3 linked regions of the Homo sapiens genome follow. The protein of the gene in region 1 interacts with the protein of each later gene in a biochemical or structural test. Each region holds a gene or a part of one and is shown on either strand. Other genes may lie near its edges.

Region 1 (3,029 bases):
ACGCAGGTTATCTTAACTTTTGGATCTTATTTTCTTTCATCTTATCCCTTTCAATAAAGGCTAAATTATACATATGTATCAGTCCTTATGAAATGTAAAAGATCTAAACTAATTCACCTTTATCATGCTCATGTTTGTTCCACTTTATCCAAAGGGCAGTGTTATAGAGAGACCGAGAGATAGAAGATGAGAAACTCCCACATCCTTCAGGATCTGGGGAAAATTAGCTTCTAGGAAGCTAAATCTCCTCATCTGTAATAATTCATATAGAGTTGTTGTAAATATCCAGGAAAGCATTTATATGGAAGCATTTAGCAATCGTAAGCGCAGTGTAAATTAGTTCCATTACCATTACCAAATATGACTAGATGGTAGAAGGAAAAGATGATGAAACAAGAGGCGAAAAGAAGAAAAACAACCGAAAAAAGTATTCTAGAGTTTCTCTACCCACTCAGAAATAGAATAATATATAGTTTTTTTAAAATGTGGATCTCTACTTTTTCCCATTGCATTCAACTCGAATCCTCAGCCGATCTAGCACAGATCCTTTTTGCTAATGAGACAGAAACCATTTATTAACAGACAGCAAATACTGTTTATTGCAGACTTTCCAGCTGACTCATGTGAAAAAGGCACTATGAAAATTAATGAATCTAGATAATTTCTCTAAATGATTTATGTTAAAATATACAACATTCTTACATAACATCTGTTTTATATATGTGAAATAATATAACATTTAATGACAAAAATTGTGTTTCCAAAAATAACATTTGTTGAAGGTTAGGTATCTTTCTTTTCTCTATGTGGAATCTTTCACAGGATTAAAATATGTGTAAATTAAGTGCTTCTTATTACCAGAAATACTTGACACAGATAAACACATAAAATGGCCCCACTTCCTTTTAACTACTCATATCAACATTCAGAACTGAGGCTTTCATTAAGCAAAATACTGTAATGCACACCAATGCAGACTACTTCCTTTGCTAGATTTTGAGAAGACATGACCTCTTTCGCATTTGTGCTTTCTCATATATAAGAACACAGTATACATAATAAGCAGAATATAAACTAAATCAAAATACAAGCTATACAAGGAGTTGCAATCAACAGAGCCATGACAAACTCTCTTGAGAATGCTCCATAGATTTATATTTGCATGTCCAAGGTATGGCTGTACTTTACAGTTCATTCAAATGTTTTAATTTTTTTTTAAACTGTTGGCATTAAGAACTTTAAATAAATCTAAATATTCTTCCATTGAGTATGTCAGAGAAGAGACTTAAGTAAGCAGAGGCTAGCCTACAGTGAGCTATGCCCTGAATGACAGACACCATATTCACAGGCAAAATCGAAACTGCTTAGATTTTGAATCATGGACAACATTGTTGCTTTGTTGCAGTGAATAACTCCACCACTATCAAAACAATTCCTGTTTATACCCTGGGATGGGGATAAAATAATTAGTCTAATTAAGGAAACTTCACCTTGGTAAAGTAAGAAAAATATTTTCCAAGGTCAAAAAATTCAGTTTAAATTTTTTCAGTTTTAATAAAAATAATGGGCCTAGAAGCAAATCCTGTGCTCACTCAGGTTTGCATGGGTTTTTTTTTATGGTGATAAATTACATCAAGAAAAATGAATCTGACATTCCCTTCAAGGCTTCTTAAAACAAAGCATGTTGGAATAATGCCAAAAACAATGGAGTTTAAATACAAACAAACAAATTAGTGACTGCTTCCTTCATCAAAAGATTCCACTCCTGAATCACTAGCGGCAGCACTGATTTTTTCCTGTCGTCTTCTCATAATTTCTTGTAACTCGGAGCTGCCACTGCTATCCTGAAAGATAAACAGTTCAGACAAGATAGTTACTGACTTGTGCAGGCTGCAGGTCATATCATGAAATGGCTCAGGATAAAATTCTACTGTGGTTTTCTTCTAGTATCTCTTTAGGAAAGCTAACAGCTCTACTTTTTAAGTGAAGCTTCTGCACTTCACTAATATATCACATTAATAATTTTTCATTTTGTAAAGTCTGTTAAGGCAATTCACTCACCAGGCCTTTCATTTGAACATGATAAAGATAAATCAATAATGTATGTATAGTACTCTAGGTTTGCTGAGAGAAAGAGGAAATGTGTACAATAAGCATAATAACATGGTAAATTATCAAAGGACTCTTTTGGGCTCAAACAAGATACTGATCTGCCTTTAGAAGATTTTAACTCAGGCCAGAGTGGGCTCAGAATTCACCCAGTTTCCCCTCCATATAGTTCTGACCCTCCGACCATGCTGGCTTTTCTCCTTTCCCATCAACAGAAGTCTCTGGCAACACAGGCAAATAATCTAAAAGATTAACTAGATCCAAGGAAAGGGTGAGGTGGTAGAAGGTGGCTGAGGAACATGAAGAACCTCAGGTAGTCAGCCTCTGCCTCAGTTCCCATGCAGAGAATAGGAAGAGAACAAGAAGCAAGAGACCATCCTGAAGTGGGTGGTGACAGCAAATGACAATAATGATAGGCAGGTGTGGGATGAAGGAATTCAGAATTTTAGGAATATGGCATTTTCTAACATACCTTGAAGAAGTAATTATATACTCTCAACAAAATTAAATATAGTGGTAATAAAACTGCTTGAGAAAAATATATAATCCTTATTAATATTCAACATATGGAAAGCAATCAAATCAAACTTTAATATGGAGCCTTCAAGATCAATGTTGTAGGGAAAACCTCCAAGGGAAATATGGTTTCTCTTGATTCAGAATGGCTACGGGGTGATACGCATGAAGTGATTTTACCCTGAATTATTTAACTGTTGAATTTATAGAATATACCTGCTAGAGATGATTATGGATCAATTTCATGCCAAAGCCTACATTCTTTCATTTGAGTCCAAGTATAATTTTCATGAAACTATTAAGAGCTGTGAGATGTAACAGTTGGAAACTACTACCCGTATATAGCACATTTTAAGTCTAAAATAGGATATTGGAAGCTTAAGTATAAAGCAATCTAGAAAACA
Region 2 (3,651 bases), on another chromosome or scaffold:
TCAGCGCAGGGCAGGGCTGGGGCCGGACATCCACAGAGACCACCTGCTGGTCAGGATGTCACAGCCCTGTGTCCCATCTGTAGGTGGCCATGACGGTCCCCTCCTCACCAGCAGTAGCAGGTCCCAATCCTTTGCCATTTGTCATGGCAGCCAGACTCCAGGCGATGGTGTGGCACCAGGGCCAGGCACTGGAGGCAGGTAGAGTGCACCCCATGCCTACTGCTGAGCCTTGGGGCACACAAGCCTTCCTCAGCCTTTCCTGGTCACCTTCGGGGGTGGTCAAGGCAACAGGCAGCGAGTGTGGACACACGTGCCACGCCCCCTCCGAGTGTGTTTCTGCACCAAGCGCACAGCAGGCTCAGCAGGACAGGATGTGGGAGGGCCCAGCTCTCCCAAGACAGGGATGGCCCCAGACTGGGACGGATGGAAGTGGGCGGTGGGCGGAGGGCGCAGAGGAGGGTGGTGGCCAGGCTGTGACCGGCCCCAGGAGCTCCATGGAAGGGACTGGGCCCATGCAGGGCAGTCATGGGAGGGTTTGGGCGGGGAGGTGACCCGACCATCTGCTCCGTGTTCCTGGAAGGTGAAATGATGCCGCAATCTTCCATGAAAGAAGCTGAGCATGTGTGAGCATGGGGGAGGCTGGCTGCGCCCCTGTGCATCTGGCCGGCCAGAACCGATGTCACCGGGCTGTTTAACACCCATGGAAACTCAGTAGAGTGCCAAGAGCCGATGGCTTCCTGGTGATTTTACTGTGATCCACCCTCGTGGGGCTACTTCCGCCTACCATCTGTGTGGTGGTAGGAATTCCCTACCTGTGTGGTGGAAATTCTGGCCAACACTGGCCACCATGCACGTCCTCCCAACCCAGTGATATTGCGAGCTTGAAATCCACCAGGCAGGATCACTCACACCACAGGCAGGAGTACTCACACCACAGGCGGGAGCAGTCACACCGCAGGCAGGATCACTCACACTGCAGGCGGGATCACTCACACCGCAGGCGGGAGCACTCACACCGCAGGCGGGATCACTCACACCGCAGGCAGGAGGACTCACACGGGCAGGCCTGGACAATGCTGCAGCTCAGGGCTTTGCTTTCTTTTCTTATCCTCATGATGCAACAGTAATTTTTTTTTTATTTTTTATTTATTTTATTTTATTTTATTTATTTTTTTATTTCATTTCATTTCATTTCATTTCATTTCATTTTATTTTATTGAGACAGAGTTTTGCTCTTGTTGCCCAGGCTGGAGTGCCATGGTGTGATCTCAGCTCATTGCGACCTCCGCCTCCTGGGTTCTCCTGCCTCAGTCTCCTGAGTAGCTGGGCTTACAGGTGCCCACCACCACGCCCAGCTAATTTTTGTATTTTTAGTAGAGACGGGGTTTCACCATGTTGGCCAGGCTGGTCTCAAACTCCTGACCTCAGTGATCCACCCACTTTGGCCTCCCAAAGTGCTGGGATCACAGGCGTGAGCCATCATGCCTGGCCTGGGTTTTTTTTGTTTTGTTTTGTTTTTTTGAGACAAGGTCTTGCTCTGTCGCCCAGGCTGGAGTGCAGTGGTGCGATCTCAGCTCACTGCAACCTCCACCTCCTGGGTTTAAGTGATCCTCCTGCCTCAGCCTCCCGAGTATCTGGTACTACAGGCATGTGACGCCACACCACTCTAATATTTGTACTTTTTGTAGAGATGGGGTCTTCTTATGTTGCCCAGGCTGGTCCTGAACTCCTGGGCTCAGGCAATCTTCCCACATCGGCCTCCCGAGTACTGGTATTCCAGGCGTGGCCCCTGGGCAGCTCAGGGCTTTTTACCCCCAAGAACCTCTTACCACACATCACTGACCACACACTCTGGGGACCAAGTGCAAAACTGCGTTGAGGACCGTCCCAGCCATTTTGCAGGTGCAGAAGCCCCTGGGGTGAGCCCAGTGCGTGGAGATGCCGTGGCACAGGTCCTAGCCGTGCCATGTCTGGTCTTCTTGCCCAACAGAAACTCACCGAGATCATCCCCAAGTCAGCCGTGGGGGAGCTGTCTGAGGACTCCAGCAATGTGGTCCATCTCATTAAGAATGCTTACAATGTGAGTCTCCCGCACCACTCAGCTGGGACCCATGGGGTGGCCAGCAATCTCCCCACTGCAGGTCAGCTCCTGCTGCAGGTCAGCAGGAGGGTGGTCTGGGAGGAAAGCCCCTGCCCCGTGGGCCAGCTGCAGCCTCCCGACCTGCCCTCAGGCCTCCAGGACACCCTGGCCCGGCACTTCCACGGGGAGCTCTGGGTCCTCTCTCGTTGATGTTGTGGGCGATGCTCCCTGAAACCTGAGCTCCGGACTCTTCATTCCAGACTCTTCTCTGCGGGTCTCTATGGAGAAGGGAGGTGGACAGCTCTGGTGGCAAACAGTGCAGCTGGGGCAGGAGGAGGCCACAGGAAACCCCCACAGTGGACTTGGGCCCTGGGAAGACACCCTGGGGGGTGGAATTCCTCTTGCTCTGTTCACCTGTCCTGGGCAAGCTCCAGAGAAGCCCTTAACCCCTGAATTTCTCCCTGGTGCACGGCCCATCGAGCTGCACCCTGGGCTGCTCCCCTGGGGAGCCCATGGCCCTGGTGGGCATAGGTAGGCATAGGTGCGCACTAGGTGCCATTCAGGGCCCCAGGCACCAGAGGTCCCGACTGCTCTGGAAATCTACCCCCAGGTGAGAGATGTTCTCAGAATTCTGGCCTGGATCCTTCTAGGCCAAAGGTCCTGCTGGCTTGAGGGAGCTCAGCACGTTAGCGCCTCCGACAAACGTTGGGTCATTGAATTAAACTGAAGGCCCGTGGAGGAGGTGCCATTTGCTTCTCGTAGCCTCCCGTGAGCCCCAAACCCCCAGAGCAGACCCTCCTGGGTGCCAGCCACTGCCCGAGGTGTTTCTGTCCTTACACAGAGGATGCAGGTGACGCCACTGCCCTGGCCATTCACCCGATGCCCCTATGAACCTGTCCCTCTGCCTCCTCTCAATTTCCGTCTGTCTCTCAGTCTTTGTCTCTCTTTCTCTGTCTCTCTCTGTCTGTCTCTCTCTGTCTCTGCCCCATCTCTGTCTGTCTCTGTCTCTGCCTCTCTCTGTTTCTCTCCATCTCTCTGTCTCTGGCTCTGGCTCTGCCCATCTCTGTCTGTCTCTGCCTCTCTCTGTTTCTCCCCATCTCTCTTATCGCTTGAACAATTTATGCAGCTCCTGCCCTGTGCTAGGTCCTGGGGACTCAAGGCTGAGGAGCAGCAGAAGCTCCCACCCCTGAGGCTCACACCCTGGCTCCATGCTAGTCCCTGTGGTCAGGCTGTCTCGAGGGCAGGACTGTGGCCCTGGCAGCCCTGCCATCCTCAGCACATCCTGCTGTGCTCTCCTCTGTGTCATTAGCTGACACTGGGGACTTGCACTGAGAGGAGAAGTGGAGACGGGTCTAAACCGCTGGGCCAGGCAGGGCCAGGACAACAGAAACACTCGCCCCCAAGAGTAACCGCTCTCTGCCCGCAGAAACTCTCCTCCAGGGTCTTCCTGGATCACAACGCCCTCCCCGACACCCTGAAAGTCACCTACGACTCCTTCTGCAGCAATGGAGTGACGCACAGGAACCAGCCCAGAGGTGACTGTGATGGCGTGCAGATCAATGTCCCGGTGA
Region 3 (3,651 bases), on another chromosome or scaffold:
TTTCCAAACAAATCTGACCGCTCTCTCCCCTGCTCAACACCCTTTCATGGCTCCCACTGACCACAGGGGAAGTCAGTCTCCTTTGCCTGGCATTCAAGGCCCTGCTCAGCTTTTCAGGCAATCCCTGCTAAGACCCCTCTCCTTCCACTCCACCGAACTCACCTCCACTCCTCTGTTTGACACATCTCCTTCCTCCTCCACCCTGCCTTTCATTTTCCTTCTGACTCAAACTTTTTTTTTTCTCTTGTGCTTGCTGAACACCCAGCCTCAATGTCACTACTTCCAGGAAGCACTCCTGGATTCATGCAAACGGGCTCTACTGTCCTTGCCCCAGGTGCCCTGTCCTTGCCCACTCTTATCATGCTGAGTGGATCATGCCATGTGCTCCTGCGGGCTAAGTTCTGGGCTCAGGTGTCTAGCATAAGGCCTGGCAGGGAGATGGTGACCGGAAGGGGACCCTGGTCAGCCTTGTTCACCGCTGGCCCCAGGGTCCAGCTGTTTGTTGACTGACTGCCTGACTGTTGAGCTCCTGCTTCAAAATGACTCAAGTATCCTTCACTGGCTGCGAATGTGAAGCCAAGTTTAGAGCTGGCCAAGGCTCTATGCTGGGGGAGGGGACCTCTCTTGCCGACTAGAAGCTCCTCCGCCTGGCGAGGAATGTGTCATCAGCCAGACCCAACAGGTACATCTCTGCAGCTGGAGTGTGCCCCCCGCCCCTGCTCAGACAGGGCCCCACCCTGGGATCTGGGCGAGGGGAAAGAGCAGGAGAGAGGGGGTGGTGGTGCTCAGCAGGGATGATGGCTGGGGGGCTGCCTGGCCAATCTTCCTGCCCCCTGGGGTGGGCAGCGCTGTGCTGCTCGCAGGCTGCACGGGAGTTTCTACTGCCCACAACAGCCAGCTATCTGGCCCCTTGGGACCTGGCACTAGGGGCATGGGCTCTGGGGACAGGACAGGATGTCCCCTCTCCCATCCAGGAGTCCTTTCTCCAGGTGGCAGGGCATGTGGTCCACCACTCTCAGAGCCACCTGGGGCTTTCTACACTGTTCCAAGACCTTAATCAACCACTGCCTGTTCAGCACACAGTCCAGTGACCGGCCACCTCCAGAAGCTCAAATCTTTCCTGCCAAAACTTACCTCCTCCTCTCTGGGCTGAGAGCTGGGGTTGAGGGTAGGGAGGCAAAGAGGGGCCTGGGTTTCTTGGGGGCAATTCAATTGTCCCCCACTGCCCGGCCCCCTCAGGGCCTGGCTAAGAACATGACGGGAAGGAATCTCACTGGCTGAGCCAATAAACCAGAGAGCCCTTTGGATGGACGGACAGACAAGCAGATGGGCAGCTGAATGTGTGGGGGCTGGGCGGTGGTGGTGGGCAGATCCTAATGGAAAGCGTGATGGGCTTGACAGCTAACCTGCGGCAATGAACGCCTAGGCACCTTCAGCTTGCCTGCACCGATCCCCACACTCACTCACTGGAGGAAGGCGCTGCCGTTAAGCCCATTTTTCTTTTCTTTCTTTCTCTTTCTGCCTTTTCTTTTCTTTCTTTTTTATTTTTATGTACTTATTTTTTGAGACAGGGTTTCCCTCTCGCCCAGGCTGGAGTGGAGTGGTGTGATCATAGCTCACTGCAGCCTCGACTTTCCAGGCTCAAGTGATCCCCCCACCTCAGCCTCCTGAGTAGCTAGGACTACAGGCACATGTCACCACGCCCAGCTACTTTTTTATATTTTATAGATACAAGGTTTCTCCATGTTGCCCAGGCTGGTCTTAAACTTCTGGGCTCAAGTGATCCTCTTGCCTCAGCCTCCCAAATGCTGGAATTACAGGCATGAGCCGCTCCATCCGGCCAAGCCCATGTTTCACATGGGAAATCTGCGGTTTAGAGAGGTTAAGGATTTTGCCCAATGTCACCCAGCCTGACTGACAGTGCGGGCACTGGGACTTGGCCTCTGCTGGCTGGGGTTGGGTATTTTGGGGGCATGGGGACCTCCTCACAGAGGGAGGAGCTCTGCCGACCCTGTGCTGGGGCCCTGGCAGGGGCTGGGGAAAGAGTCATCTCCATAGGGTTCACTTTTGGATACTTCTCAGCCCAACCCAGGCTGGCCTTGCCAGCGTCCCTTCCCCGCCCGAGGCCCACCCAGCGCCAGCGCCCGGTTCTCTTGCAGCGACTGGGCCCTAATGTCGCACGAGGGGCCTTCGCGAAGGCCAATGGTACTATCCCCTCAGCCCCTCTCCCACCCCCACCCCCTACCCCCTCAGGCTGTGGGGGGTCAGGGGTCGAGGCCCGCGCGGCGCGCACCTTCCAGGCGCATCCCCACCGTCAGGCATTTCTGGAAGCGGCAGAAGGGACAGCGCTTGCGCTGCGTCTTGTCGATCTTGCAGCTCTGGCTCTCGGTGCACGTGTAGTGCTTGTTGTTCTGCACCGTGCGCTTGAAGAAGCCCTGCGGGAGCTGAGAGTCAGCGAGGCCCCGCAGCGCCCGTCTGCCGCACCCCTGCCGCGCGCTCGCCGCTCACCTTGCAGCTCTCACACGTGAGCAGTCCGTAGTGGTAGCCGGACACCTTGTCCCCGCACACGGGGCACAGCTCGTCCAGGTCCTCGTCGTACGAATAGTCCATGCCCGCGGCGTCCGCCTGCGGAGGGACAGCGGGTCAGGGAGGGCCGGCGGAGACCGGCAGCCTGGGGTCCCCGCGGCCGCCGCCCCAGCCGCTGTCGCCGGCCCGTCGCGTAATCCCCTCTCTGTGCCCAGGCGCTGCCGCCGGCACCCACCGAGCGCCCCGCGCAGCGTCCCGGGGTGGGTCCGGTGCAGTCCCCGCGCCCGGCCTTCCCCTGCCAGGCCCCACGCTCCCGCCCCGTCCGGGGGGCTCCTCCCGCGCGGACCCCGTCGCGCCCGATCTGGGGCCCTCGGGTTCGATGCGCTTCGATTGGGATTCGTTTGTCTGAGAACAAAACCCCGATTCTGAGAAAAAGAGATGGGCTCAGCCGCGGGGAAGACGCCAGGGGACCCAGGAGCGCTGGGGCGCCCGGCCCGGGTGTTCTGGGAACCCGACAGAGACGAAGGAGGCAGAGACAGAGTCCGGGGGAGCCAGAGATGGGAAGAAACTCTGGCGAGAGACAACGACCGACGCCACCGGGCGCAGACACGAGGCCAGTCCGAGAGTGCCAGAGACACAGACACTGAGACGCCCAGCTAGAGAGAACCCGGCGGGGACGAGACACAGGGAGGGATGGAGAGAGACAGGGAGACAGAGAGAGAGAGAGAGAGAGAGAGAGACGAGAGAGAGAGAGAGAGAGAGAAACGAGGGGTGGGGGATTGGATCAGAGACTCGGAGAGACAGCGGAGGCCCGAAGAGAAAACCCAAGAGAGACTGACGCAGAGCCAGAGACACAACGATAGACGACAGACAGAGACGCCGAGACGAGAGGAGCCCCGGAGAGACGAGGCCGGGGAGCTACAGAAACACGGAGAGAAAACCTGGAGGCGGAAGCGCCCAGCCCGAGGGTCGGGGACAGGGGACGCGCGGAAACCTGCCGGGCAGGAGCCCAAGCGCCAAGGCGAGGCCCCGCAGGGTCGGACCCAGACGGGGGCCCGGGCCGCAGGAGGCGGAAAACGACGGCGCCGGGACCGAGAGCCCGAAAACGCAGAGCCGCCGGGACCC

What was found.
Region 2: the proteins of EPS8 (region 1) and ITGB2 form a complex in vitro, tested with the Homo sapiens proteins (one study listed by IntAct).
Region 3: the proteins of EPS8 (region 1) and NR5A1 interact in a surface display test, tested with the Homo sapiens proteins (one large-scale study listed by IntAct).

Annotation. Positions count from the first base shown.
Region 1 is NC_000012.12:15,619,587-15,622,615, forward strand, and holds the end of EPS8 (epidermal growth factor receptor kinase substrate 8), read right to left. Parts: intron 1,845-3,029; coding exon 1,731-1,844; 3' UTR 548-1,730; downstream 1-547. UniProt on the Homo sapiens protein: Signaling adapter that controls various cellular protrusions by regulating actin cytoskeleton dynamics and architecture. Depending on its association with other signal transducers, can regulate different processes.
Region 2 is NC_000021.9:44,893,400-44,897,050, reverse strand, and holds part of ITGB2 (integrin beta-2 isoform 1 precursor), read left to right. Parts: intron 1-1,990; coding exon 1,991-2,080; intron 2,081-3,506; coding exon 3,507-3,647; intron 3,648-3,651.
Region 3 is NC_000009.12:124,500,786-124,504,436, forward strand, and holds part of NR5A1 (steroidogenic factor 1), read right to left. Parts: intron 2,626-3,651; 5' UTR 2,611-2,625; coding exon 2,509-2,610; intron 2,436-2,508; coding exon 2,294-2,435; intron 1-2,293. UniProt on the Homo sapiens protein: Transcriptional activator. Essential for sexual differentiation and formation of the primary steroidogenic tissues. Binds to the Ad4 site found in the promoter region of steroidogenic P450 genes such as CYP11A, CYP11B and CYP21B.